Linked DNA regions of Homo sapiens. The protein of the gene in region 1 interacts with the protein of each later gene in a pairwise test. Each region holds a gene or a part of one and is shown on either strand. Other genes may lie near its edges.

The links. The genes of interacting proteins can lie anywhere in the genome.
Region 2: the proteins of SSX2IP (region 1) and PIMREG interact in binary tests that used the Homo sapiens proteins (3 or more experiments, as listed by UniProt).

Annotation. Positions count from the first base shown.
Region 1 is NC_000001.11:84,662,962-84,666,461, forward strand, and holds part of SSX2IP (afadin- and alpha-actinin-binding protein), read right to left. Parts: intron 3,272-3,500; coding exon 3,161-3,271; intron 1,592-3,160; coding exon 1,456-1,591; intron 1-1,455. UniProt on the Homo sapiens protein: Belongs to an adhesion system, which plays a role in the organization of homotypic, interneuronal and heterotypic cell-cell adherens junctions (AJs).
Region 2 is NC_000017.11:6,447,455-6,449,711, reverse strand, and holds part of PIMREG (protein PIMREG), read right to left. Parts: intron 2,250-2,257; coding exon 1,954-2,249; intron 690-1,953; exon of another isoform or gene 401-689; coding exon 305-400; intron 9-304; coding exon of another isoform or gene 1-8. UniProt on the Homo sapiens protein: During mitosis, may play a role in the control of metaphase-to-anaphase transition.

The DNA.
Region 1 (3,500 bases):
CCACATCTACTTGTTTATATACTGCCTATGGCTACTTTTCTTGTTACAATGGCAGAGATAAGTAGGTGCAACAAATAAGTTGTAGATCCCATAAAGCTGAAAATGTTTACTATATGGATCTATACAGAAAAAGTTTGCCATGTCCTGTTAACATTAACATCATCATTTTCATCAAAGGAGTCAAAGCCCCTGATAGTAGTAATATCTTCTGCTGCAGGTGGACATGGAAACATTTGGCGTAAAAAGGAAAAAGAGTAAATTATTATAATCTTAGAGTTAATAAAATCATTATGAAACTGTCACTTCCGATTGGACCAGGAAACAGCCAGACCGCTATAATGGAAGAGCTCTGTTTCCAGAACTAAATCCTTAATAAACTTCTCTGTGTTACACTTTATACTTTCAGCATTTCATCCTGCTTTTTAATTTTTTTCCTTCATGAATGAATATGAGGCTAACTAAACTTAAAAACCAATGATTCTCCAAATGAGTAAGATTAACTCAGGATACCTAAAGATTTCCAATCTTAACGGCGCATTACTGAATCTTCATTTCTATTTTTCAACAATTTAAAAAATAAAGTATTCAGATACCTCCAACAGCTCTGCTGCAGAATGACAGTGATGTAGTCAACACTAAACTGCTTGCTGACAGCAGGCAGAGTCTACCACATGACAGCCTGAAACGTACGCTCATCGCCTGTTTTTCAAATCTAAGGTAAGACAGTTTAGGGGTGTCACGGTATAATGTATGTTAGAGGACTACCTATAGTCACTAGGAAACCACTCTTCAATAAATAAATACACACACTTCTTGTGCCTCGTATTTATACCAGGCCAGCAAAACTGTATTGTAAAGCTCTACTTTCGTGTTTCTTTGCTTTTTAATTTACACTATCTACTTGAAATTATCCACATATTTGGATGAAATGGCTTAAAGTTTTGAAAAAGACTACTATTAGGAAAAAAGTATACCTTAGACACACACACGCCTAACTTTTATAGTCCATCCTTTTGACTAGCTGCTCCAAAAATGTACAGCTAAACTTATTTAAAGGAACTCAAACTGACATGAACGATTTGGTCTGATGAAAAATTTTATGAGGTTTACTCTAAAATACTTCTTTTGATACTCAGAAACTGACACTGATTTTTAATATTATCAGTTCTTTGCTATGGAAAATTAGAATGTCCTCTGGCTTAGTTTTCCTCTATGGATTAATTCTACACTGGTCATGTTAAAAAATACATGCAATTAAATAAAGCAAGGCAGAATGACTTACTTTCCACTAACCAGTTGTCTACATTTTTTATATAAACAAACACCACTGAAAATCAATTGTATAAAGCATGAAAATAACATTTCGTGAGTTACTGTGTTCAATCCTTTTACAATTATTTCTAAGCATAGTATTAGCTTATTTATTCTCTTAGCTGATCTTTGCCAGCTGTTTACCTATTTTCTTATCTTTCTTGTTCATAACAAGTTGATGTAGACGTTCCTTCAGTTTATTATATTCACGCTCTTTTCTCTTCATATCATGATTATACTGAGTAGCTCGACTTGCAATGATATTTTGTAATTTTTGCACCTGAAAAAGGCATTTGCTATTATAAGCCCAGTAACGATTCACAAATTTGAAAGAGAAAAATCCTAAAATTCATCTCCCCATATAGGTTTTAAAATCCTAGGATGATTCTTCCTTATTTGTAACCAGTAGAAACCACTTTTTTAAATATTATATGAATCACATAAAGTTTTTTTAATTCTGAAATTTCCAGAAGCGCTAATTTTCTAAATTATCTCCTATACCTTTTACCTTACATATAGACTCTGATCATTTAAAAACCAGATATTCTTATGGAAGTATTAAAACGATTAAAACTTCATCTGAGATAAACAGAATTCATCTGATCATTTTTAGTGAACTCCTTGTATTACTGACTTACAATCACTTATACTTTTTATTAATCTGTGACAAAGTGAATTAAGCCTGTGACACATGGCAGCAGGTAAGCAGGCTCGTTTTTCTAATTAAAAACAATTCTCGAGTAAGAGTAAGTCCAAACAGCAGAATAATCCAGTCCAAATATTTGCTGAGTATCTACTAGGTGCCAGACACTGCTGTTCAAAATTTAGATCTATTATAGTTTCTCAGGCAACTCCTGACAGAGTATGTCCTATTCTTTTATAAAGCCATTCCCAGTCCCTGCTAGGGATCAACATGATTAACTTAATCCCTACCGAAGATGAGCTGTATTCAAACCGTTTAAATATAATCAACAGATCTAGTCAAAATTGTCTGTGAACTCAAGGAAACACGTACAAGCAACCTTACAGTTTAAATACTAATTACCTACTACTTACTAAATATACTACTAAATAAACAAATATGGTAAAACAAATCTATCTAAACCACTCCAGGGCGCTTTAAAGAAATACACTCCTCAGAAGTCTTTAATTGTAGTTAAAACAACATATAAAACACTGAAACTAAGTATTATATTTTTATAGTTATTACATGGTCAGGGGTCATACTTTAGAGCAATAAAAACATAATAGTTTCTTTCTACACAAATTAAAAAATATATTTTGAAATGCATTAGTGCTATAGGTCCAAGTAACCACTAAAGTAGAAATTAGAATTCTGCTAAGTAACCACTAAAGCAGAAATCAGAATTGTATCTTTTGTGTCAGAAATTAGATTTTTAATGTGAACTGCTTCTGTGCCCATTTAATGAAGAAACTGGTTGACTAGACGAACAATGTCAATATTTAAGACAGTGCATGCAAGAAGGGGCACCTCAGCTATCACGTACAGGTACAGCAGAGAATAAAAGATCTGCATTTAAAGCACTCTTGTGCCTAAGAAAAAGTGACAGTGAACATGAGTCCAGGAAGGGCAGTCCAGGACACTGGCTGTTACCAGCTATGAACTAATATCTAAGCCAAATGGATCCACTGGGGGCGGGGTCTGTAGTGGAGAGGGTTCCTGAGCTTCCAGTTAAATACTATTACACAAAGGTCCACCATATCAATTTGGGGAAAGATGAATAAATGGTTCTTTCTTTTTTCAAGTAAAGTGGCTCTTATGGTCATCTCATATTACAAAGAAAACAAAAATTCACTTAAACTTCATCTGCAATAACTGACAACTCACCTCATCTTTCTCATTCTTTAGTAGCTGATGCAAATTCCTGTTCTTACATTGTAACTGTCTGTCTCTTTCCTGAAGCCCAATCATTTCCCTCCTGGAGGTTTCCAGTTGTTCCTAAAACATTTATAAGCAATTTTGCTTAAAATTAATAAAGGATTTAGAATAACTGAATCCTTAAAATATCAGTAACAAGAAGTTATACATCCTAGTGTTTATTAGTCAAAATCAAATGTTAGTGGCACATGAAATGTTTATTTAAAGGAATTATTACAAAGCACACTATAAAATAACATTTAAACTTACACATCAAATTTTAATCTACATATCAAATTTTGTACACATA
Region 2 (2,257 bases), on another chromosome or scaffold:
GGAGAGTTCTGGAGGAAGGGCAGGTTTTTCAGGAACCAGCCACACGTGAGGTTCCAAGTGATGGACAAACATGGGGTCCCAAGGCCCAGAAGACCACACACATTCAGGCTACATCCTTTACCATCACCCCAGTCCAGGATTTTGTCCTTTCTCATGTTTGAGATGAGGGAGACTGAGGCCCAGAGAGGGGCAGAGACTGGCCAGGGTCACACAGCAGGTCAGAGCAGAACCAACGCCTGCCTACAAAGATGGCTGGAGGGGCCCTCCCGGCCCCTTCACTTTGAAGCATGGGATGCCAACTCACCTCTCTTCCGCCATAATGGCTTCATCTAGCTCTTGGGACAGCTTCTGGAGATGCTGAATTCCCGCCCCCACAGGCTCTAGGTCACTGTCAGACTCGCTGCATGAAAGAAAAAGCCACACCAGTGACTAGTTGGAAACTCCCGGCAGGAGACCCTTGCAACCCGGTACCGGGGTGTGGTCTGTGGGCCCAGATGACCCTGGCGGGCTGGGCTTCACTCCAGACCCTCACTCCAGGAGGTGACCTCAGAGCGACAAACAGAGAGAAGATCAAGATCCACGAGGCCAAGGTCACGGGCAAGTGATTTTGCAGCTTCCCCACTTGGAAACTGAGCCTCAGCTCTCCAGGTGGCTTCAAAACTTGCTTCTGGGCTCACTAGGAGGCTTGGGTGAGTGTGATTGTGTCAGAACTAAACTCAGCTCTTCCTTTACGGACAGAGAAACTAAGGTCCTAAAGGATTTTCTCAGGTCCCCTGCTGGCTCTGGACGCGGAACCGGGTCAGAATACAGATGTGGAGAGTATTTTTGAAGTGTACACAAGCCTTATTTTAGCTTACAGGTTTGCAAAGAGCCACCTGGTCACTTACATGCATCCTGGTGACTACCTGCCACAACACAGGTGCAGCGGCTAGGCAGCCTTCCCTGAGAGCTCCGAGATGGGACCAGGAAACTGCCAGGGACTGCCGATTGGGATGAGCTTCACCCCCTGCCCTGAGCCAGGCCACTTTCTGGGCCTGTCTGAGAACTAGAAGATTCTGCAAGGCAGGCCAGCTTGATCGGTGGGGCAGAACATCCAGATGATCTGGACCCCAGCCTTTACTCCTCTATTTCTTACAGGATGACCCTCAGGCTAATCACCAAACCCCTCCGGACCTCCGTTTCCTTACCTGTCAAATGGGACAAACAGAGCCTGCCTTAATTACAGCTCAAAGTTCCTATTAGGCTAAAGAAAGATGCTAGCCCTCAAAGAAATCTGGGGAAAAATTCAACAGCCCTAAGCTACTATGCAGCCTTAACTAACACACTCCATTTCCCCCTAGAACTCAGCCGGAAAGTTGAAATACAATCCTTAGGAATCTAGTTGTTGTTTTGTTTTCTTTCTCTCTCTCTTTTTTTTTTTTTTTTTTTTGAGACAGGGTCTGGCTCTGTGGCCCTGGCTGGAGTGCAGTGGCGCGATCTCAGCTCAATGCAACTTCCACCTCCCGAGTTCAAGCGATTCTCCTGCCTCAACCTCCCAAGGAGCTGGGATTACAGGCGTGCACCACCACGCCCAGCCAATTTTGTATTTTTAGTAGAGATGAGGTTTCACCATGTTGGCCAGACTGGTCTCCAACTCCTGACCTCAGGTGATCCACCCGCCTCGGCCTCCCAAAGTGCTGGGATTACAGGTGTGAGCCACTGCGCCCAGCCTGTTTTCTCATTTTCTGATGAGCAAATACATGCACTGGATATCTGCTAAAGCAGGACACACATTTAACAGTAAGAATAATAATAATACAATATGACGCTGCTCAGGGTGCCCCTGGCTCCAGGTAGCCACAGGGGGTGCCAAGAAACCCCTAGGGCCCAGTTGGTGTCTGGGAGGTCAGACAGCAGGGATTGTGCCCAGGTTAAAAGGCCACCAGCCCCGGGGTGAAGCACTATCCCACTTGCCTGGGAGAGCAGAGGGGCTCTGTTGAGGAGTAGGGGCTCCGGAAGGCAGCCTCCCGCCTTGATCGCCGTAATGGGTGGGCATGTGAGCCCATCCGGACAGAGAGGCGGTGATGCTCCTTCTCCCAGGGGTCTGCGGCTGAGTGGGCAGGGGCGGCTCCAGACAGCCGGGTGCTCTTCTGGCTCAGGCTGTGAGTTGGGGATCCACTGCCCTTCTGTGCTCCTCTCTTCCGCCTCCTGGCCTTCACCTGGGTCTCCACCAGCCACTTGGTGCCACTTTGGCAGGACTCCTGGATTCTCTGGAACA